Homo sapiens: one gene and its partners. The gene in region 1 interacts genetically with each later gene. Each region holds a gene or a part of one and is shown on either strand. Other genes may lie near its edges. The genes, in order: PTAR1, SGMS1, ARMH3 and TM9SF2.

Region 1 (7,038 bases):
TGAGGTATGCCAGTAGCTTAAAAGGTCTATCTTCCCTCTTGAAAACATGAAATAAGTGTCTTGGTTTTAAGAGAAAAAGAATGTTCTCTACTAATGAAGGTGCCAAAGAGGGGAGATAATCTTTTATGTTCTGAATATATTTAGTAAGGAAAAGCAGCTGACCAGGTCTCCTCAAATAACCTGCAAGACAGACTAGACTGGAGAAAGAAAGAAAATCTCAATAACTTTAGAAATAGGCAATTTTAAACAATGCCTACCTCCTTCCTGCCTAGCACAGGCAAGTCTTTCATTTACAAATACAATGCTATGGCCTAAAGTAGAATCTGTATTTATGAAGATGAAGATGCCTCCAAATAAAGGAAGATCCAAAAGAAATGAAGCTGGGAAGGGGTCACATATGTGACTTCAGTCCAACATACTGTCAAATGTACTCACAACTGAAGTTGATAGGTTGCTAACCCTTTTTCACTCTTTGCTACCAGACTTTCCCCTCTCTCAAAGAGAAATTCTCTTACACTTTAAACAAAAAGTGTCAAGAGATTATACTTCAGGTAAGTTAATTTGCAGACCATCAGGGTTGGAAAAATGATAAAGCATACCTTATTCTTGGGGTCTAATCAAATCTCAATCCTGACTGTGCATCAATGTGTTGAGCTTTTTCTAGGGGGGAAAAAAAAAAAAGGGCCAGGCATGGTGGCTCACACCTGTAATCCCAGCACTTTGGGAGGCCAAGGCAGGCAGATCACCTGAGGTCAGGAGTTCGAGACCAGCCTGGCCAACATGGTGAAATTCCGTCTCTACTAAAAACACAAAAATTAGCCCGGTGTGGTGGTGGGTGCCTATAATCCCACCTACTTGGAAGGCTGAGGCAGGAGAATTGCTTGAACCTTGGAGGCCGAGATTGCAGTGAGCCGAGATCGCGCTATTGCACTCCAGCCTGGGCAAGAAGAGCAAAACTCTATCTCAAAAAAAAAAAAAAAAAAAGAGAGATGGCAGCAATCCATCCTAGATATGCTAAATATTAGTATCTCCAAGGAAGGAGTCAAAAAAACTTCTGATTCTGTTTTATTTTGGAACTAACACAGGTTATTCTGTTGCACAGTCAAGGTTGAATATCACCATCCTAAGCTGCAGGCAGAGATCTACATGAGGAATCTCTTATTAATGATGATGATGATGATGATGACGATGATATGGTAACACAAAACCTCTTGTATTCACTCAGGCAAAGCTCCACAATCAGATGACCATGTTTACCCAAGCAGGCAGGAATCAGGTGTAACTAACACTTTCTGCAGCTCTCATGAAGACATGCAGTTTTGTGTAGGAAATAGATTTTCCCTTTTCTTACCTATGACACCAAAGGGTTTCATGTCCTGGGTAGGAATCAATAAGATCAGTGCTGAATTCAACTTCTTCTTCTAGAAGATGGGGAAGATTAATCCTTGGTTCTTCTGTTGAAACTGCTGCTTCTTCATCTTTTGGAGGAACTAGGGCTGGCTCACTTCTCAAAGGATTTTGCTCCATCACAGAACTGTCTATCACAGTTTGGCTAATCAAAGACTTAAGCAAAAACTGGCGGTAGTGAAATCCACTGTGGTCTGAAACGTGCATAGATGCCCAATGTTTAGTAGAAGATAGTTCATCAAGAAGAATCTTTTAAGAAGAAAAAAGGGAAGTAAGAAGAAGAGTTCCCAAAGGTTCTTCTTTCTCCATTATTGCCTCTGATTTCTCTTTGATTTGTTCCTTTTTTGACAAGACCATTCTTACCAATATTTTGTACACAATGTCTAGCACAGTGCTCTCACTTAGTGGAAGCTTAATACATGCGAATTTTCTCTTTCCCATATAAAAGTGATAGATTTTTTTTTAAGACTAAAGAATTTAAGGACTCATTTGTCATCCTTTCCCTAGACCTTGACTACTCACATTCTGATTGGTACACACAGAGAAGGAAAATAAAATTCTAAAATAATGATGAGCATTAGGGTATTCATTTACAAGTAATGCTGACGTAAAAGCAAAAATATAAACTCAGATTACTTTGATATAAACTTTATTTTACATTTAATAAATGTGTATAATATGTAACTTATTATCTCTACAATAGGCTCAGTGAAATTATTTGTTCTTCAATATAAATGTCATGAGGGCAGAGACCGTGTCTGTCTTGCTCACTACTTAATTATAAGGGATTAGTAGAAAAACATGATGCACTAATAATAAGATTTTTTCAAGAGCTCGTGACTTTAACTGTCTCAAACTTACTTAACAGTAATAATAAATGGGTTTTAAAATAACTGAAAATTCAGCAGCAAATTGTTTAAATCTTTGTGATACCAATATCTTGCAAACTAAAGAATTTCAAATGAAATGATTTTTTAAAAAGCAGCACCTATGCAAAAATAATTTATTTGAGAGTGTCTTGGACAGGTCGCAAACATAAATCAGTGAAAGGTATATCAAGTGCCTACCACGTTCCGTCAGAGGATTTTCAGACCAGCTAAGGAAAAAAGACATACATTTGTGAACAGTTAACAATACAGACAGCATAATGCTGAATGACACCTTTACCTGTTTGTCAAAGGTCCCAGGCAAATGCCTTCTCCTGTACCATGATCTTTTTTCCATTTCTTACACCATTTTTCTTCCGCGGGAATCTTTCCTTTTGCTGAACCCCCATAGTACTTATGTATTCCATCACATTTATTAAAGAATTTCAGTGCATCTCTTCATTCTCATTAAACTCAGTGAGTGAGGGCTTTAAGATATTTATTCATTCCTATCTGATACTTCAATCCCCCTATACCTACTGACATCAAAGTGGATACATAAATATTTTATGAAATGAATGAACAATTTAATAAATAAGGCAAATAGTAAGATTACTTCCAGCCAAGATAGTCAAGTTGTATCAGTGATATGTTTTAAACATCTCCTTTAAGTTCCAATGAGTTTATTCATAGCCACCTAAATTTATTCCAGAGGCTATAGCTGGCAAGTATCTGAGAAATGGAAAACAGTATCTTTATTTGATTTTAAAAGGTGAAGAAAAATAGCACCAGATAAACTCCTACCTGAAATAAAAATCAATCTTACATTTATTACATTTTTGAAAAATAAACCTGTAGAACATTCTGGCTATAATACAGCAGCTTTTTTATTTTGGCATGGCTTCTTAACATGGATTGAAAAGAGTACTCCACTTATTTAAAATGAACTTATATAATATGAAAACATTTAGATTATTTCTAACTGGATATTTCTATGTATAAAATTGCAGTTTATTATTTAATTTTGAGGCAAAAATAGCACACATATAAAAGATGTTCTGGCTGTGCGTGGTGGCTCATACCTGTAATCCCAGCACTTTGGGAGGCTGGGGCGGACGGATCACCTGAGGTCAGGAGTTGGAGACCAGCCTGGCCAAAATGGTGAGACCCTGTCTCTACTAAAAATACAAAAATTTGCAGGGCGTGGTGGTGCATGCCTGTAGTCCCAGCTACTTGGGAGGCTGAGGCAGGAGAATAACTCGAACCTGGGAGGTATAGGTTGCAGTGAGCCGAGATTGCTCCACTATACTCCAGCCTGGGCGACAAAACAAGACTCCATCTCAAAAAAGAAAAAAAATATATATATATATTTTCAACAAAATCAATTTCTTAAAAAAATTCTTAGGCTTTTAAAGAGAAAATCCACTATATTCTTTTCCCTAAGATATAAAGATGCATATTAGAAACTTTAACTGGAATTTCAGGGTATTCTCTTGTTAGAATAAAAAGATATAAAGATAGAGGCAATGATTTTTTTAAAAAAGACAGCAATTACTTTTAAGTGATCCAGTTAACTTTTAAGTGATCTAAAGATACTATATGAAGATATGGCTTTAATGTACAGTACTGATGGGATAAATGACCTTCGTATGATATACGTTAAATATCTTTCTTTTCCTACTTCCATATGAAAACATGAATAAGTGAATAAATAAACTACAAGAAAACTGCAAATGCAGGGCTATGAAAAAGAGGGATAACGTGCTAAAAATGAAAGACTACTAAAAATACATATGCCATAGGTCCTTTAAACTTTTAAAAATAGTATTTGGGTTTTCTTCTGATTATAAAAGTGATACAAAATGATCAATATAGAAAATTCCAATAATATGGGAAAATATAAAAAAGCAAACAAAAATCATCCATTATTTTGTTGGCCAGAGATCACTACTTGTAACATTCTGGCAGAAAACAAATCTTTCAGGTTTTTTTCTATGTATGCACATGCACAGAGTTTATTTTTAAGAAAAATCTGGGATATTCTTTTGTACCAATTTTATTCTACTTCAATTATAAATACATTCCTATGGCATTAAATATTATTCTATAATTTTTAACTCGTAAAATATTTCACCCTCAAGATTAACAGAATTTAACCATTCCTGTGTTTGTTTCTACTCTTGTATAAGTAACACTCATAAATAAATCTATGTACATATCTAATTATTTAGGAGAAATTTGTAGAAATATACTTGCTGGAACAAAGAAAAAAACTTTATAAAGTTCTTGATATATAAAGTGTCCTGCAGAAAGACTGTATAATTTATACTCCTATTGGAAGTACATGTTAATGCTTATTTCCTAAATTCATCATCAATACTTTAATCTTCACTAATAAGAATCACATTTCATTTTAATTTACATTTCCTTAATTATCATTAAGCCTAAATATCTTTTCTTGTGTGATTACTTTTCCTTTGCTTCTTCATTTATGAACTGCCTATTTTGCCTAATTCTCTACTTTTATGAATTATCTAATTTACTATTTGTGATAGTCATTATTTTTCTTACGAGTTTGTAAGAGGTCTTTACATATTAAAGATATTAAGTCTCTATTTGTCATATGTGTTATAAATATTATTTTCGATATATTACTGCAACTGATTTTTTAAATTCTTTTTTTTTTTTTAAAGATTGGGAGTCAAGTAAAATTCTTTTTTTTCTTTTCTCCCTCAGGTCTATTGAAGAAGTATAAATGACAAATTAAAATTGTGTATATACACACACACACACACACACACACACGTATACACACACATATATATATACGATGTACGACATATTGTTTTTATGTATACACTGTGAAATGATTACCACCATCAAGTGAATTAACTTATCTATCACCTCACATAAGTATTTTATTTTTTGTGGTAAGAACATTTAAGATAACGCTCTTAGAAATCTTTGGGTATACATTATTAACAGTAATTACCATGTTCTACCATTAGACCTCCAGAACTTACTCATCCTAACGGAAACTTTGTACCCTTTAACCAGCAACTCCCTGTTCCCCACCACAACCCCTACTCCTGCAATCACCATTCTACTATTTCCATGAGTTCAACTTGTTTAGAGTCCACCTACAAGTGACACCATGCAATATTTATCCTTCTGCGCTTGGCTTATTTCACTTAGCATAATGTGAGTCTCTTTTCTTCATATAGGTTTTTATTCCATTTAAAGTTCAATTTGGTATTTAAGATTAAAAAAAAAAAACCACCTAACTTTCTATTTTCTAAAAAGTCAATAAATTTTACCAGCATCACAAATTGAACAGGGAATCCTTTCTCTAATTATGTGAAATGCCATATTCATCATTAATGAAATATGTACATATTATGTATTGGAATTTGTTTCTGGACTTTATATTCTGTTCCATTACTGAGTCTATTTTTGAAATAGCATCACAATTTTAATTACTCTGTCTTATTAATAAACATGTAAGTATCTAATGGTAGAGTGTTCTTTATTGTTTTTCCCAACAATTCCTCAGCTATTCTTTAAGCTTTATTCTCTCTAATGTACTTTAGAATCATTTTTGAAGTGAAAAAATAAATCAGTGGTTTTTAATATATTCACAGAATTGTGCAACCATTGCTCTTATCTAATTTCTAATGTTTTCACCACCCCCACAAAACCCCATTCCTATTAGAAGTTACATCCCATTCCCTCCTCCCCAGCCTCTGGCACCCACTAACCTGCTTTGCCTATTCTGAACATGTTATATAAATGAAATCATACAATATGTGGCCTTGAATCTGACTGCTTTCAATCAGCATGTTTTCAAGGTTCATCCACGTTATAGCATGTATCAGTATTTCCTTCCTTTTTTATGGCCAATGTTCTATTGCATGGATACGCCACATTTTGTTTTCCATTCCTCAGGTGAGGTATTATTTTTTGGCTATTATAAATAATATGGCTATTAATGTTCTCATACAAGATTTGGTATGGAATGTGTTTTCACTTCTCTTGGGTATATACCTAGGAGCAGAATTACAGGGTCATATATGGTAATGCATGTTTTTCTCCAAGAATATGATATATATTAACTATAGTTTTATTAATATATAGTGATTCTATGTTTAATTATTTGAGGAAATGCCAAACTGCTTTCCACAGTGGCTGTACCATTTTACATTCTTACCAGCCATAAATAAGAGTTTCAGTTTCTCCACATCCTAACCAACATTTGTTATTGTCCGTATTTTGGTGTGAAGTGGTATCTCACTCCCTGTGGTTTTGCTTTGCATTTCCCTAATAGTAAAGATGGTGAATATCTTTTCATGTCCTTATTGGTGGTGTGGGTAGGTTTTTTGGAGAAATGACTATATGTGCTTTTTTTATGTGAAACTTGTAATTTGCCAGTAGTAATAAACTGCCTGACTGTGAATCTTTCCTGCCACACTACCCTCAAATATAAAAATATTTTAAAATTTACTTAAATGTTTATTTAAGCATGCAGACATCAGAGAGAACATAAAATAGAAAATTAGTGTCATAATTCCACCCTATACTACTTTTAATCAATCTTTATTCTTTAACCTTTTTCTGACTAGAAAACAAATATATGCTTTTATAAAAAATACAAGAAAAAAATCTATAGCATTGTTGTGTGTATGTATTACTATCTGTTCAGCATTTACCATGTGCCAAGCACTGTTTCAAACACTTTAAAGTATTTGCTGTCTCATTCAATGCTAAT
Region 2 (7,038 bases), on another chromosome or scaffold:
CCAAGTTATGAAACTCCTCTCAATACAGCCAGAGGCATTGGGTATTCTGTTGGGCTCATCTCCATGATGACATCCCTCCAGAGCATTCTGGCTGTTTGCTTTCCAGCCCAAACTTGTGAGCTACTGTGAAGTCCTTCATCTCTCCTTTTTTGGCATCGTAGTGAGTCCCATTTCTTCTTTTCTCCATGTTTACTCCCTTGTTTTGGAGACTGTACCCTCTGTGATTCCTGGAAAAGAGTATATAAGCGGTAAATATTTTTAAATCGTGTATATATGAAAAAGGCTTTAATTTATCCTTAGTTTATCCTTCAGTTTATGCTTAGTAGTAATATGGCTGGGTACAGAATTCTAAGTGGGAAATCATTTTCCCACAAAATCTAAAGGCATTTTCTCAAAGCTTTCTGTTTTTCAGTGTGGCTTTTGAAAAGTCTTATTCTAATGATCCTTCATGTAAAGCTTGTTTTTAATCTCTGGAGGCTTTAGAGTCTCTTCTTAGTCCCCAGATTCTAAAATCCCATGATGCTGAGTCTTGATATGTAGATCTGTTTTCTTCCATTATGTTGAGCATTCAGTGATCTCTTTGGATTTGGAAATTTATATCCTCTGTGTGGTGTGCTCCATCTGCCATTCTTTTTTTTTTTTTTTTTTAATTTCTCACACTTCACTGATGTATCATCCTTCCATCCTTAATCAGAAGTCTTGATAATTTTTTAAAAGGAAATTATAATAAAACATGTTGCCCAAAGCTAGATTCTTATAAGTTAAATATTGAAATCATGGTAATTAAATTGGACAACCAGAATTTAATTAAATTGGATCATGGTAATTAAATTAGACAACCAGAATTTAAAAGAGTACTAACAAGCATAAAATATAGACAGTTACACATTTTACTTGACCGAGCAAATAAAGGTTGTAATGAATGAGTTGTTCAAGCTATTTATTACTCCGGTGTCCAGCCCAGACTTGTATCATAGACAGGTAAATTAATTTATAATCTGGAAAATTATTCAATGTTACCTACATAATTTGAGAAGATTAAAGGCACATCCCTTGTTTCAACATGATCCCTGAACATCCACATACCAAAAATATTCATATATTTGACTACCCAAACCTTCAGCTGCTTTAGCCAAGTGTAGTAGGACAGTTGTCTTCTAGGCCAACCATGATAAAAATACATCTTTAAATTTTTCCTAGACTACAGATTTAAATTTTATTTTTCCCAAATGATAGTTATACTAAAGCAATTATTCAGTCAGTCAGATAGAAGTACTGTTTCTCTGTCATTGTAATTTTTGAAAAACTGGGGAAACATCTACTGACACGTGCTTTAAAAAGTGCTAACTGTGAAAAGTCCTGAAGCCACGTGATTCATTTGTAGGACCATCCCACCCCCCCGCCCCAAGGGCTACTCTTGGAATGGTAAACACTGAGTGGGCAAACTTCCTGGTGGGGATTTTATGTTTCTTAATATAAGCTTAATTCTGGATATGAATAGTAATCTTCGCACATTTTCATGTGGGCTCGTAATGAATCTTCTTTTTCTTCTTTTCTTTTTTTCTGCCAGCTTTTCGGAGACTGGGAAGCCCAACTGCGAAGAATAATGAAGCTCATTGCTGGAGGTGGCTTGTCTATCACTGGCTCTCACAACATGTGTGGGGACTATCTGTACAGCGGCCACACGGTCATGCTAACACTTACCTACTTATTTATCAAAGAGTGTAAGTCTAAAAGACTTCCATTGTAATTTCCTCACCTGCCATTTCTCATGAACTCTGGTCCTCTGGTAAAGCTCATTTTCTGGAAAATCTGCTGAAGCAAGACTGGAGGCTTCAGGAGGCTTGCAGCTTCATCTCATCGCCATGCAACTGGCACCCAGGGAAATATGTGGAAGGACAGAACTGGTCTTCCTGAGGACGAGGTGTCCTGGAGTGTCATCTGTAGTACTGGGGTGGAGGCAGTTCCAAGCACAGCCTGCAGGGTGTGTTATGAGCCAGTTATACAGCTGCTGTAAGGAGCCAGATGGAAATCTCAAAGGGACACAGAAATCCAGTATCAAGCCTGATTGGGTGATGGTAGATTATGTGTTGATGCAGCAACTATTTTTTCAGCACTTGGCACTATGCTACATGCCTGAGGGTACAGTGATGGGTCAGACTCATCCCTGTCCTCAACAAGGCCATGGGCTCAGGGCTGAGGCAGATACTAAATGGGAAATTTCCCTTAAGAAACGTACTTAAAATATTTTATTGTGAAATCACAAAATAATATTATAAATACCGCATACATGGCTCAGATTTAATATATATTAGCATTTTGTCATATTTAATTCAGATAACCCTTTTAGAAAGGAAATGAAATGTTAATATATGATTAAAACCTTTTCATTCCTTTCCTATATCATTTCCATCCATTTTTTTGGACTTGTGTATTATTGTTTTGTGGTTTTTTAAATTTATATACATAAATGGCATACTGCCATTTATATTCTTCTGCCACTATTTACCCTCAAATTATGTTTTTGAGATATGAGATTTTGGTCCATTCACTTTAATTGCTATTAATATTACAGTGCTAGAAATGAACTACACATATTTATTCATTTCTCTACTTATGGAAAATTTTATTATGCTCAATATCACATTGTTAGAAACAGTCTGATAAGCATTATACAGGGGGGTTTCCATGAAGAGCAATGAGTAGAACCAGGCTGCTGTGGTATCACAGAGGAGGGAGATGCTTTGCCTTCTGGAGGTGTCTTGGGAGCATGTGGTACTCTCTGGAAGTTTAAGTGGGTGGAATTCAGAGTAGGGGTAATAATAAGAATGGACAGGTAAGTGGGAACCAGATCACAGGGGGTGCTTAAGCCACAAGAAGAGGGTCTGAACTCTCAGCTGATGTAGATCGGGTGCCCATTGAGGGGTTGTAACCAGTGGGGCAGTGTCATTTGTCTTTGAAGAGAGAAAAATCACTCTTGCAGCAGCTTGCAGGATGGACTGGATGGGGGACCAAACTGGAGACCGGGAGAAAAGTTAGGAGATTGCTGCAGTAACAAAGGAAACTAGCCTGATGGCATCAGGGATGGAGAGAAGTGACAGACACTTTAAGACATTAATAAAGAGAGTCAGCAGATAACAGGATGGATTATGGGGTAGAGAAAACAGGTAGTGGACTGGGTCGAAACCTAGTTTTGTTCTTGAAAAACTAAGATAAGGAAATACAGGAAGGGAAGAGAGATGCACTTCAGGGCACTGAGATAGAAAAGGGAGAATAGATGTTCCAGTGCTTATACTTAGTACGTGAGCAGATATAGTGAGTTCTAGCAAGATCTGTTCAGAATTGTCAGGGCATAATCTAGCCTTTGGACTGGAATGTAACTGGATGTGGACAGTAGGAATCACATAGGCCAGATGTCAGCACCCCTGGGGGAGGGATTCCTGGCTCCTGCTGCCTGATACCTGAAATTCTTTAACGGGGTCAAGGCTTATCCATCTTGACAATAAGGCAATGTGTCATATTGAGAGGCAGAGGCGTTGGTACTATCACTTACTAGCTCTATGACCCTGGGAAGAAACTTTAACCTAAGTCTTAGTTTCCTCATGTTTAGAATGAGATATTCACATCTGCTTCATCGGGTGGGAAAAAGTTTATGAACATTAAAATTAGATGGCATATATGGATACTAATAGAGTCACACAGAGACTGAATGGTAGCTGTTTCTTGTTTTTGTATTGTCAAGGTATCAAATACAAATATTACTAGAATATTCCTACCCTAACTGCTCCATTTAAAATTGCAAACTGCCCTTCACTCCCTATACTTCTGATCCCCCTTATCCAGCTCAACTTTATTATTTTTCCACAGCCTTTAACACCTAACATAATGTGTAAATTATTTATTATAAGTATTGTCTCTTATCTCTCTTCCCCACTAGGAAGGGATCTTCCCACAAAGGCAGCCTCCTTGCCTTTTTTATTCATTGATCCAGGTATCTAGAGCATTGCCTGTCCCTGGCATGTAAGAGGCTCAATGAATATTGGTTGAATGAATGACTGGTTCTTGGACCCATTGAGAATCCAATAAAAGTCTGAACCTGTCATGCTGGTGTAGAGAGTATAGATCATATTCAAACAACATTTTGCCTAACACTGCAGAGCCTCTGAATCCCACAATTGAGAATCCAAGGTAGAAAGGCCTGCACTAATAGAAATTTTGATGTTTTTCTCAGGTAATTTCCCAAATGGGGATACAGACAAGTATTTATCTGACACCATTCGACCTTTGAGAAGGCACTTGAACTAGAATTCCCAGGCGTCTGGATGCTTTTCTGCTTGTATTTGAGAAATGAAAATCTCAAAGACTTTCAGATTAGTGTATGGTTGCAGAACTTGGAAAGCAGTACAGTTAAATCAGTTATGACTGCTTAGTCCTTGTATTAGGCTCTGTGGGCCAAAAGGTATTGATTTTTGTGTAGAGCATCAACCCCAAATTAGCTAGAGGTAAATTTAAATGTCAATGGACAGTTTTTAAAAACGAAACATGATGCATTAACCTGTCCTTATTTGATTAGCCTCATCTTTTAAACTCTATTTATGATTGTATGAATCAAGTAAGAACCAAATATGAATTACTATCACTAGTATAATCACATCATAAAAAGCTGTTTCTGTTCTAACCTTGGTTACAGATAAATGACAGCCCTTAGATTCACTAGATCTGTTTTCAGAAGGGAAGACTCAAGGTAATTGGATTCAGAAGCATTAGTAGAGGCATAGTTGGGTGCCCTTAATGTCATTTGAATAATGGGACTATTGCAAATCTCTCCCCCTTTCAGATTCCCCTCGGCGACTCTGGTGGTATCACTGGATTTGCTGGCTTCTCAGCGTAGTTGGAATCTTCTGTATTCTCTTAGCGCATGACCACTACACTGTGGACGTGGTGGTGGCATATTACATCACCACGAGACTCTTCTGGTGGTATCACACTATGGCCAATCAGCAAGTGAGTTTCCCCGCTTTTGATTTTAGCTTCTGTTGTTTCTGGCTTGATGTTGCTGGCTTGGACAGGGTGCAAAGAACCTGTGGATGTCTGAAGTTTCTCTTTCTTAAGTAGTAATCAACTAAGATTGTATTGTTTTTTTGTGACATTGATTCTCTTCAGAATTAAGAATAAAAAGTTTATTAATATAATGATGTGAGGAATTACTTCCTTCTAGAATAAGGAACGCACTTTCATTGTCCTTGAAAAATGAAAAATATTTTCTAAGCTTGTGTCCCTCCTTGCTTGATTTGCTTTCCTATCCTCTTCTCCCTACCCGGGGCACATCACAAGCTTAATATTTAACATTTAATTAAGTGTTAACATTTTTAGCATAGAAGAGGAATACCTAAAAAGCTAACTGAGGTGTTTATTTATAAGCAAGAGATGAGTGAGCCATAAGTTCTCCTTGCCCTCCCAGAATTGGCGTTGTTTTTCTACTGGGATGTGGCTCAGTTTGTAGATGAATGTGGAGTGTAGAATGGTGATGAGAGAGAGAAGCTGGGATATGTGGGTGGACACGCAGGGCAGGTATGGAGTCCTTTGGGAATTTTAGCGTGGCAAGTATTTGAACTTAAAGTGAAAGATTGTAAGAAATGTGTTTATGTTTCTTTGTTATCCTAGGTGCTAAAGGAAGCTTCCCAGATGAACCTCCTGGCCAGGGTGTGGTGGTACAGGCCATTTCAGTACTTTGAAAAGAATGTCCAAGGAATTGTACCTCGATCTTACCATTGGCCTTTCCCCTGGCCAGTAGTCCACCTCAGTAGGCAAGTTAAATACAGCCGGCTGGTGAATGACACATAACAGCTGTACAAAGTGGGGAAAAGACAAATTGTCCGAAGTGCTAAGAACTCCATGAGAGAAGATGCCATAAAATAAACACCTCCCTAATCCTATTATCTTTCAATGGTTACCTTGACTTAACCTATTGAGTTACCTGGTCAGCACTGTGATCTTTTTTTCTCTCCAAAGGACCTGCGTTGGACAACAATAAAGAAAAATTTAACCTATCATGCACTGTACACATTTCCTGTTCATAAGTTTGGGATTTACATAACCCGCAACCACCATGTTCCTTTGTATATGATGCAGCAGCATAAATGTAAGCTTTTATATCATAAGTTCTGGTCTTTCCAGTCACATCTGGAAATAAAGCGTATTATTTTCTTGGGAAAACATACTTTTCATATCTCTTGCCCCAAAGATTGGGCTGTAAGCCATTTTCTAGCAAATGTCTCTATGAAGGTTTCTAAGTACCTGAATGGGGTTTGATTCTGAAATCTTTCTACCTGTTGCACCGATATTCAAATAAAAATGATAGACACAGAAAGGTTTGGTAACTTTGGGTTTTGTAAAATCAGCAAAGGCAGTGTTTCAAAAAGTGCAAAAAAAAAGATTCTGTTATAAAGTGATTTTCTAAGTATTTCCTAACTTTATTTTTCAAAATGATGTTATGAACACCAAATTTAAAGATTTTTAACATGTCAGAGAGAAGAGAGTTAAAATTTAAAAATGCATCTTGGGAGAGAAATTTGTCTATGTTTCTAGTGCCTTTCTTGTCTTGATTGTATGGTCAGTAGGCAATCTTAAATGTTTTTATTTAAAATAAAGTATTCCTTGAAAATATAAATATATGTATACACTACTAAATTTTGCATTTATAGCTAAATTGAATCAGAAGACTGCTTATGGTTTTAAAATTGCAATGACTTAAATAATGAGGTTGTTAATTAGAGTCAGAGCCTGTTCACATATTGTGATCAGGTAGCAATGACATGTACCACTTAAATTATTTTATCGTCGATTTGGTAGTTCAATTTTAACTACTCAATGAAAACAGCCATGAATATCTTTTCTTAAAGAGAGTTTTGAAAATGATCACTTACCTAAAACTTGAAAGCTATGAATTAGTTATCCATACTCTCATGACAATTTTGTTGGTGAACAACAAAAAAGAGATCTATTTCTTTAAAAGATATTTGTGCAGAAACTGCATGT
Region 3 (7,038 bases), on another chromosome or scaffold:
AGACCATGAACTTTCTTTTTTTTTTTTTTTTTTTCCCAGACAGAGTCTTCGCTCTGTCGCCCAGGCTGGAGTGCAGTGGCACAATCTCAGCTGACTGCAAGCTCCGCCTCCTGGGTTCACGCCATACTCCTGCCTCAGCCTCCCAAGTAGCTGAGACTACAGGCGCCCACCACTGCGCCCAGATAATTTTTTGTATTTTTTGTAGAGACGGGGTTTCACCGTGGTCTCGATCTCCTGACCTTGTGATCCGCCCGCCTCGGCCTCCCAAGGTGCTGGTATTACAGGCGTGAGCCATGGCGCCCGGCCTACACAGACCATGAATTTTCTAACATTCAGTTCTTTAAAATAGATTTGTACACATTAAATGTGTACATATTTGTACTTACATATAGAGATCCATAGGAAACTCCTTCATCATGTGTGTTACAATAAACTCTACCATCAGGTCTGAAAGGGGAATAGAGAAAAACTGGATCAATTACAATGGAATTCATTTCTTGTCTTTGAGTTGGAAAAAAAGCTTCTGAGTACACCTTGCACTCACACTGAACGGCATCCACTAACCACATCTTTATTCATATACACTTATTTTATATAACGCATTTTGTGTAACACTGTTCACCACCTGCCACTTGTAAAGTAATAAGAAATTATTTCACTTGCTGACCTCCAGAAGGATACCCTGACCTGCCAATAAATTCAGATAAATGGAAAATTTCATTGTATAGATATTTCATCCCATGGCATTAATGCAGACTGCCAAAGGGAAATCATATTCTGAGACTAGACAATGAAGCAAGCTCTGAGAAGAAATTATGGATCACATTTGTGTAACCAGAGACTCAGCTCTAAAGCTATGTCAGTCAATCTCATCTTACTATCATGCTCAGTTAGACAGATATTGACTGAAATGGGCTGTGGGGCTTTGGGTCAAGAGAGGCTTATTATACAGCCTTAATTACTGTTTCTAAAATTAAGTAGATTTAGAAACTGGGGCTGAATATCCAAGTGAAATGGGATTAAGAATTCAGCTAATTCCCTGAGGAAAATGCAGAATTCTGGACAGACAAAATTACCCAAGATACAGCCCCCTACCTGTCAACTCAGTCAGCCTCATCTCAGTTTAATATACTCAGGGGAAGTTTTGTATATGTAAACCATGAACTTCAAGCCTCCTGGCCAGCCAGCACATCAATTCAAACCAAGAAAGGATGGGAAGAATTTGAAATCTTTTTTTTTTTTGAGATGCAGTCTCGCCCCAGCTGGAGTGCAATGCCGTGATCTTGGCTCACTGCAACCTCTGCCTCCTGGGTTCAAGCGATTCTCCTGCCTCGGCCTCCTGAGTAGCTGGGATTACAGGCGCACGCCAACACGACCAGCTAATTTTTGTATTTTCAGTACAGACAGGTTTTCACCATGTTGGCCAAGCTGATCTCAAACTCCTGACCTCAAGTGATCCGCCCACCTCAGCCTCCCAAAGTGCTGTGATTACAGGTGTGAGCCACTGCGCCCAGCCTGAAATCTTGATCATGTATCTTGTAAATCATGTATCAAGTTTAGACACAGCCATTTGTCTCACTGGAATGACTTTTTTCTTTGAACAACAGGACCCTTTTATTGACCACTCTATAACTGGGGTTGCTTTACCAAACACAACAATAAACATGATTCTTAGGCCAGGGAAAAAACACAACTAATAATTTATTTGCGGAAGAAGCACATCAAACAGGTTCTACTCTTCATCTTCATCATGAAAGCCTATCGCTGTCACAGAACAATGTCAATGTTGATGATACTCACTCACCCAGTACTGCACATACTAAAGGACGGCAGGGAAGATTCTTGTCTGCTGCCTTCTTCCTGTGTCTCATAGGCTTCACACCAAAAAAATGAAGAAAGGAAATTAGTAGACACCGGCACTGACATCCAATGGCCCATCATCATGTTCCTTGTGCAAATAAAATCACTATTACAGGGATACTTCCTTTTCTTTCTCTTTTTCACATGGTGGGAGAGGAATGAGGTAGCATGGGATGAGGCGGGGAAGGGAGGACTTGTGAATGCTTCAGTTATCAATGCACGCCTGTTACAAAATTACAATTCACAACCTCAAAGGGCACTAGAGAATACTACAATGGGAAAACTGTTGGTTTTACTTTGCTTTTAGTTATATAAGTGGCATTACTAACGACAAAAGAGGTACACTGGTGTTTTTCTTTGACGATAAATAATAATAATAAAAAAAAGAGGAAGTGATGGTGCCACCTATAGAAGCAGCAACAGTAGTAGTTGCAAAAAAATAAAGAAAGTTTTACATCTAAACCTCAATGTAATTTTTTTTTTTTTTTTGAGACGGAGTCTCGCTCTGTTGCCCAGGCTGGAGTGAAGTGGCACGATCTCGGCTCACTGCAAGCTCTGTCTCCTGGATTCGCGCCATTCTCCTGACTCAGCCTCTTGAGTAGCTGGGACTACAGGTGCCTGCCACCACACCCGGCTAATTTTTTGTACTTTTAGTAGAAACGGGGTTTCATCCTGTTAGCCAGGGTGGTCTCAATCTCCTGACCTTGTGATCCCGCCTTGGCCTCCCAAAGTGTTGGGATTACAGGTATGAGCCACCAAGCCCGGCCCTCAATGTGATATTTTTTAACATACCTCCAAGCTTTAAGAAATTCCCTGATCCTCCATATTCTATTTGCCCACTTCTCAGATGAACAAATCTGAGCAGCAGCTAGTCTTAGCCACTCAAAAATTATACTACATTTTGAAAACAAAAGGCTTAGAACCATTTCCTTGCTGAAACCTATATTATTGAAATCCAGTATCAGGCCAGGCGCGGTGGCTCACACCTGTAATCTCAGCACTTTGGCAGGCCAAGGCGGGCAGATCATCTGAGGTCAGGAGCTGGAGACCAGCCTGGCCAACGTGGTGAAACCCCATCTGTAACGAAAATACAAAAATTAGCCGAGCGTGGTGGCAGCCACCTGTAATCCCAGCTACTCAGGAGGCTGAGGCAGAAGAACTGCTTGAGCCCAAGAGGCAGAGGTTGCAGTGAGCAGAGATCACACCATTGCACTCCAGCCTGGGGGGGAGAGAGAGAGAGAGAGACTCTCCCTCAAAAAAAGAAAAAAAAAAAAAAAGAAATCCAGTATCATTGCCACGCTTGTGAATCTTCCAAAACTCTTGATTAAGAAACAGCTCCATGACACACAAAAATCCCAACAACAAGCATGGGTCTGTTGAACAGCCGTCATGCAAAGCCCTTTGGCACAACTTTCCACCCACATTTGTTCTAGTAAGATCAATTTCATCCCAACCCTGCCGACATACAAAAAATTTCCTCTAAGAAAAAACAAGAAGCAAAAGAAACACCTACCATTCTATGTAAGTTTACTCGAAAATTCATGTTGTCATCATGCAAAAATGCATTGGCATATTGATCCTAATAAAAATATAGAGAAAAAGTAAGAAGCGAGAGCTATATTTAAGAAACTGTAATCTATCACACTTCGTACAAATCCTTGGACTTTGAGAACTACTTTCAAGGATCAGCTGGACAGCTAATAGGATGAGCCTAGAGCCTTATGTCAAACCCTACTTAAGCCATGAGATTTTTCTTTAGTGTAATTTCCCAGTGTATCTCTAACTGGTCAAAAATTTCCAAGCAAAAACAATAAAAATTAAGACGCAGGGACTTAAGGCAGATGCTGAGAGGAATGAGAGTAATCTGTTTTCCTATTCCCTCTTCCGTCCCATCTGCCCAAGGAGCTGGCTCTGTTTGTGATAGTTTAAGGTTTTCACAGAGGCTGCAGGATTCATGTGCAGGCTCCACATGAGGGTTTAGGAGCAAGAAGAAAAATCTGTGCTCTGCTGGGAATGGGTTCAGCCCAACAGAAGCAAACTGCTACACAGGCAGCGTGGAAGCAGGCAAGACCCTGTCTATTCCGGGCTTTCCTGAAGACTGACAGAAAATCAAAAACCTCTTACCATGGATTAGTAATAAACATCCCTTGGCCCTTTCCCAATACCTTTTCTGAAGATCTGACAAGCCTACAGACTCCAATTACAAGGAACTGTTACAATTTGTGAAAAACAACTCCTTTAAAGATTTTCTTAGAAAGATTTTTGAAAAGCAATTATACCAGGCCCACTGCTAATAAGCAGCTCTTCCATAACCAGCCACCCCTAATCTTGTGAAAAGGAGGTCATCTTTCCACAGAGAACATGAAGAGAGAGAGACTGAGAGAGATCTCTACTTCATGTGGAATATCTTCACCATTTTTCTTAAGAGAGAAAAGAGCAGAGTGGGGAATAGTAAAGGGGGAGGTTGAAGCTATAAATTTAGCTCTAAACTCACTCAAGTTCTGCCATGCCTGTGTGTCACCAAGATACATGGTGAGTTTGAACCTAATTAGTCCAACCAAAAGTGGCTTCTTAAAAAGCCAAAGCATCTCTTCTTTTTTCCCCTCAGCTCTTGTTCCTCGGCAAACTGCAATTACTGAGTTTCCAATTCCCCTCTCTGGCTTTACTATCCACCCCTTCACCCCATCACAGGAAACCTGAGCTCCTTTTTTATTTTTTAAACTGCTCCACTGCCGAGCATGGTGGCTCACGCCTGTAATCCCAGCACTTTGGGAGGCCGAGGTGGGTGGATCACCTGAGGTCAGGAGTTTGACACCAGCCTGGCCAACATGGCAAAACCCCATCTCTACTAAAATTACAAAAATTAGCCGGGCAAGGTGGCACTGCCTGTAATCCCAGCTACTAGAGGGGCCGAGGCACGAGGATCGCTTGAACCTGGGAGGTGGAGGTTGCAGTGAGCCAAGATCATGCCACTGCACTCCAGCCTGGGCAACAGAGCGATACTCCGTCTCAAAACAAACAAACAAACAAACTGCTCCACAGTTTAAAAACACAGTGCTAAACAGCGTGGAAGCAGACAAGACCCTGTCTATCCATGGCTTCATCGAAGACTACACTCTAGTGGGAGAAGACAGATAATACAAAGGGGGAAGATTTTCTCTCCTAAACTTTAGGACCCTAAATGTCATGAGACAGTAATGGGGTGAGGGGAGGCAGGGAAAGATAGCACTTTGTAAAAGACTGCCTAATAGCAGAAGGCTCGTGAGACCTACCTCTGCAATACATGTAAGGATAATCAGACAGAGTTTGCCACTGTGAAGCCTGTGTTCATCTGTAAAGAAAAAAGAAACTCTTCTCTGTAAATCATCCAGATTTACATCATCTGTTTCAATACAGAACAAGGACGTATATCATAAAAGGAAACATTCACACTTTCTCTTCCCACAAAATCCATAAATGAAAATCAAGGTACTACTATAGTAATTCTTGCTTCCCTCCTAGGCAAAAGAATTCCCCCAGAAGATTTATTTTTTTAATATCCTGGTAGTCTGTTAAATGGCTAACCACCTTCCTGAAAGCCATCTAACTCACAATGGTTCCTACTGTCATGGCTCAAATAGTGGCCAGTACTCTCACATCAGCCCTTTGCTGATAGAACTTGAATAGTCAGGTCCATTTCCTTTTCCACCCACCCTCTCATCTGCCAGCTCTAAGCACCACCTACCACAAAATCTAGAAAGATTTCATGACTGCTCATAGCAAACTGGCAATGAAATCAAAAAGAAATTAACTGGAGACTAGGGTCCAGCCCACGCTTCTCCTTGCAATTGTATACTTATGCCCTAGAAAGCTGTGAACTCTTGATCATTTTTCTTCCTGTCAAAGTTACTCATTCAACAAATATTTACTTAGCACTACTATGTGGCAGGCACTGTGCAAGGCACTAGAGATATAGCACTGAATAAAACAGACAAAGGTCCCTGGTCTCTCACAACTCACATTCTAGTTATTAAAAAAGAAGAAGACAACCTCAGTAGCAGGGCTCTAAGCCCACACACAAAAGGACAAAAAAGAGCTAATCCATTACTGCCAAGTACGAGAACCCATCAAGCTTATGTTACTTTCCAGAAACTCTGTGGGTGAAGGAGTGAAAAGGAAGTAAGAAGAGGATCATGCCAGCATAGCCAAAACAGACAAATGGCTCATGATTTTCAAATTAGCTTCAACAGGACCCAGAATGAAGTCCAATCTAGAGAGAAGACCTCTTAATGGATTAGAGTGCTGTAGAAGTTAGCTATTACTATTTACCCTGACATTGACCTGCTTCTTTCTCAAAAATGGGATCTATCAATTAAAACCTGACAATTAGATGGCATAATGGGGATTACAATCCACAAATATACTCACATCTCCTCAGAGATAGGCAATGCAAAAAGAGTAATGGTGACAATCCCTATCTGACACTCCCTGGAGCTTCATCAAAGCCCCGATATAGCCAAAGAGTAATGCCCTTGCCTCCAGAAAACTAGATTCACAACTCTTCTACCCACCTTTAGCCAGTTTCTATGGCACTATCCTCCCACAAACTGATACGCAACTCCCACAGAAAAGCCTGCAGCTATCTCTCCACTTAAAATTTTTTTTAATTTTAAAATTAAAGTGTTTATGAATACAAAACTAGGCTTATTTCATTATAGACAGTCTTTTAAACTCTAAAAAAGCATATACACACAAAACAATGAAAATCAAATTTAATCATACCACCCAAATGTTATAACTGTTAAGACTTTGGTGAATCAACTTTAAGTCTATGCATAGATATACATGGTTTTTACAATTTTTTGCCTAGTATCTATTATAAAGGTTGAGCAGAAGCTTCTTTAAGGTGACACCACCAAAGTCAGAAAAATCCCAAGTAATAAAGGCTTTAAAAGCAGGGGAAAACCCAAGGGAATAGGGGCTGGGCTCAGTGGCTCACACCTCTAATCCCAGCACTTTGGGAGGCTGAGGTGGGATGATCACCTGAGGTCAGGAGTTGGAGACAAGCTTGGCCAACATGGTGAAACCCCTTCTCTACTAAAGATACAAAAATCAGCCAGGCGTGGTGGCATGCACCTGTAATCCCAGCTACTCAGGAGGCTGAGGCAAGAGAATCGCTTGAATCCACAAGGCAGAGGT
Region 4 (4,115 bases), on another chromosome or scaffold:
GTGCTACGTGATAAATTTAGGTCCAGAGCTGTAAATTTTAATAAATCATCTATAAAACAGCAGTAGCCAGTGAAACAAGGAATGACTGTTTTTGTGCCCTGTGTGTCCATAAATGCATATACAGAATAATTTATTCCTAGCCTACACACAAAAAATAACGATCATTGTGAATATCTGTTGTTTTTCCAGACATATGATACAGAAAATGATAGCTTAACCATCACCTAAATTTTATTTATTTTTATTTATTTTATTTTTATTTTTTTGAGACGGAGTCTCACTCTTTTGCCCAGGCTGGAGTGCAGTGGCGCGATCTCAGCTCACTGCAAACTCTGCCTCCCAGGTTCACGCCATTCTCCTGCCTCAGCCTCCCGAGTAGCTGGGACTACAGGCGCCCGCCACTGCGCCCGGCTAATTTTTTTTATTTTTAGTAGAGATGGGGTTTCACCATGTTAGCCAGGATGGTCTCGAACCCCTGACCTCAGACGATCTGCCCGCCTTGGCCTCCCGAAGTGCTCGGATTGGGCGTGAGCCACTGCGCCCAGCTGATTTTGTTTTTTAAAGTGTTATATTTTCATTCATTCAGAGTTGAATTTTGTAATCTGAATTATGGAGTCATATCAAATGGAACCAACCAGTTAAACCAGTAACTTATAGTGTATTTCACTTTCTTCAATTGTATTTTTCCTTTAGTGAACAGGTGGAAGCATTCTGGATAAGGGAGTAGTGAGCCCTTTAAATGCCTTACCTTTCTCTAAAATAGGGTATGGTCTGTATTTGCTTCAGTACTCCAGAGCAATGCCATTTTATTGTATTTAAGTCAATCCATTTTACAAAACAGAAGTAATTATTCTGTCACAAAAGGAAAGACGCCACTTTTAGTACGTACATATATTCCATATTAAGAACAAAATTAAGTAACTAAACTTAAGTTTCTTAGAGTTGCCTGGATAGTGATTAAATGTTCTTCTCATCTTAAAATATTGTTTGTCATCTTGAAATTTATGCAAGTAAGTACAAAGTTATATAAATATACTGAGTTTTCATTATTGCTTTTCTGAAATTAACCCCAGCCCTAGCCTGAATAATTATCCTTTTGACTATGCAAAAGGTATATTTGTATGTCCTCCAAAACACACATTGTGCTTTGCATATAGTAGGGCCTCAATACATGTACAATGTAAGGATGGATATAATGATGTTTGTAATTTCCCACGGTAATGTCCCATGTATAGTCTCTTGATTTAGAAAATCTCCTTTAATATTTTCTCAGAGTACTGCATTTAAAACAATGGTGAAAACTATTGGGACTTTAAATGTAAAATTTATACAAGGATTATTTATAGTCCCTTATGTGTGCATGTGCAAGGAGTACTATGCTTGAAGTCAGAAAAAACGCATTTGATTTCTGGCCACAAGTACCATCCATGTGACCATGAGACAGTCACTTAACCCCTTTGAACCTCATTTTTGTCTCATTGAAAGAGTGTCCCCATCTAGCATTCAAATTCTTTGGAATCTAGACTGATACCTGAAAATCAAGCCATACATTGTTTTCATGAATTATCTCATTTACTCTACATAATAGTCTATGGAGGCAATGAGGACAGATAAATTTCTCCCTAGTTAATATGATAAATGGGCTTGGAGATGTCAGTGGACTTGCCCAAGGATGACACACACAGTTTGTGACAGAGCTGCTCTGTTCTCTGCTACCATGCTGTCCCTCATTTTCAGCTAGGATGCATTTTTGTTACTATCTAATCATGTCACTTTTAACATTTTGTAAAAACTTACTGAGTTATTTTATTATAATTCTTTGAAGACTGATAACTTCCAATAACTGTACTTAGAAAATATCCCCATTTAATCATTATTTGAACCTGTTTTAATGTATTCATCTCATACCTTAAAAAATTCTAGTAGCGTTTTCCATTTTGTTGTAAAATATTCTTAAATAGGAAAGGACAGTTGACATCCTTCAGTCTTTTCTATGTAGTAAGGAAAATAATGTGTATTGTAGAAAGCTTAGGTAATCTTATAGTAGAAAAAAGTTCTACCAATTTTTGTAAGAAACTTGATTTGAGGTGGTCGTATATTTTTCAGACGTGCTCATAGATCTGTAGTATATTCCCGGTGGGTAATAGTTTATAGTTTTGCGACTTTTTTAAGGAACCAGTCATTGTAAGTCTGTATTTTTGTGTAAAGTATGAAACTTCCTTTGAAAAGGGGTTTATTTTTATTTTTTCTCTTATAGGAACAATTGGCTTCTTTGCATGCTTTTGGTTTGTTACCAAAATATACAGTGTGGTGAAGGTTGACTGAAGAAGTCCAGTGTGTCCAGTTAAAACAGAAATAAATTAAACTCTTCATCAACAAAGACCTGTTTTTGTGACTGCCTTGAGTTTTATCAGAATTATTGGCCTAGTAATCCTTCAGAAACACCGTAATTCTAAATAAACCTCTTCCCATACACCTTTCCCCCATAAGATGTGTCTTCAACACTATAAAGCATTTGTATTGTGATTTGATTAAGTATATATTTGGTTGTTCTCAATGAAGAGCAAATTTAAATATTATGTGCATTTGTAAATACAGTAGCTATAAAATTTTCCATACTTCTAATGGCAGAATAGAGGAGGCCATATTAAATAATACTGATGAAAGGCAGGACACTGCATTGTAAATAGGATTTTCTAGGCTCGGTAGGCAGAAAGAATTATTTTTCTTTGAAGGAAATAACTTTTTATCATGGTAATTTTGAAGGATGATTCCTATGATGTGTTCACCAGGGGAATGTGGCTTTTAAAGAAAATCTTCTATTGGTTGTAACTGTTCATATCTTCTTACTTTTCTGTGTTGACTTCATTATTCCCATGGTATTGGCCTTTTAAACTATGTGCCTCTGAGTCTTTCAATTTATAAATTTGTTATCTTAATAAATATTATAAAAATGTCTTCATTGCATCATTACCTATTATATATTCAAGGAGGTTCTGTAAATACAGATCTATTTACCAAGGTGTTTTGAAATGATTTATACTATTTTATCAGATTTTACTGGATTTTGTTAATGTAACACTTTCTGAGTTTTGATCTGAATGGAATTTCACTGTGTAAGGCATTGTCTAAAATGTTCACTGTGAGGCAGTAGAGGAGGTTGAAGTCATGCATATCTAGACAGATGAATTATCTGCAAGTACTTAAGGTGGAGCCTTACTACATTGTCATTAAGGAGTTTCTATTTTTGACTTGTTTTTCAAAATACAGTGTTTTAAGTCAGGTTTTATTACCTGGACATTAGCAATCACTAGCAAGTCTTCATCTTTATGATTTCATTGTTTTAATTTAGATTTCACAAACAGTTTTACTTCTAAGAGTTAAGAAATGCACTGTCTTTCACATTCATCTGACTAATTGAAATCCATTTATGTAGAATATAGGAATGGGGGGTGATTCTGAAGTATCGGTCTGCTTGTATCTGTGAGCATATTCATTTGTATTTTAGGGTCTCTCTGCTTGCTGCTTAGGAGAGCAAATCAGATACTGTCATTAAACTTACAACTAAAATTACTAGCTGTCACTTATATGATATTGCTGGGTTCTTACTGAATAATTTTTTTTTTTTTTTGAGACAGAGTTTCCTTCTTGTTGCCCAGGCTGGAGTGCAATGGCGAGATCTCGGCTCACCACAACCTCCGCCTCCCAGGTTCAAGCAATTCTCCTGCCTCAGCCTCCTGAGTAGCTGGGATTACAGGCATGTGCCACCACGCCCGGCTAATTTTGTATTTTTAGTAGAGACGGCATTTCTCCATGTTGGTCACACTGGTTTCAAACTCCTGACCTCAGGTGATCTGCCCGCCTCGGCCTCCCAAAGTGCTGGGATTACAGGTGTGAGCCACTGCGCCCAGCCTTACTGAATAATTTTATGTCACTGTCCTTTTTTAAAAAAACGGACCTGTTGGTTTTGAAGAGTAAAGGAGGAGCTCTGTTCATTTTTAACATGGAATATTTAAGATAGAAGAGTTTCTTTCAGTTTTATGTATCTCTTGTATTTATTTTTTATGGGTAGAGTTGTCCCTTAGTATTTATGGGAGATTGGTTCCAGAACCCTT

What was found.
Region 2: changes in PTAR1 (region 1) and SGMS1 are lethal when combined (synthetic lethality), as found in Homo sapiens cells (one study listed by BioGRID).
Region 3: changes in PTAR1 (region 1) and ARMH3 are lethal when combined (synthetic lethality), as found in Homo sapiens cells (one study listed by BioGRID).
Region 4: changes in PTAR1 (region 1) and TM9SF2 are lethal when combined (synthetic lethality), as found in Homo sapiens cells (one study listed by BioGRID).

The regions. Positions count from the first base shown.
Region 1 is NC_000009.12:69,721,975-69,729,012, forward strand, and holds part of PTAR1 (protein prenyltransferase alpha subunit repeat-containing protein 1), read right to left. Parts: intron 1,657-7,038; coding exon 1,352-1,656; intron 1-1,351.
Region 2 is NC_000010.11:50,305,948-50,312,985, reverse strand, and holds part of SGMS1 (phosphatidylcholine:ceramide cholinephosphotransferase 1), read left to right. Parts: intron 1-1,570; coding exon 1,571-1,724; intron 1,725-4,837; coding exon 4,838-5,004; intron 5,005-5,664; coding exon 5,665-5,844; 3' UTR 5,845-7,038. UniProt on the Homo sapiens protein: Major sphingomyelin synthase at the Golgi apparatus.
Region 3 is NC_000010.11:101,990,165-101,997,202, forward strand, and holds part of ARMH3 (armadillo-like helical domain-containing protein 3), read right to left. Parts: intron 5,192-7,038; coding exon 5,133-5,191; intron 3,440-5,132; coding exon 3,374-3,439; intron 1,875-3,373; coding exon 1,805-1,874; intron 448-1,804; coding exon 387-447; intron 1-386. UniProt on the Homo sapiens protein: Involved in GBF1 recruitment, Golgi maintenance and protein secretion.
Region 4 is NC_000013.11:99,560,434-99,564,548, forward strand, and holds the end of TM9SF2 (transmembrane 9 superfamily member 2 precursor), read left to right. Parts: intron 1-2,257; coding exon 2,258-2,325; 3' UTR 2,326-3,615; downstream 3,616-4,115. UniProt on the Homo sapiens protein: In the intracellular compartments, may function as a channel or small molecule transporter.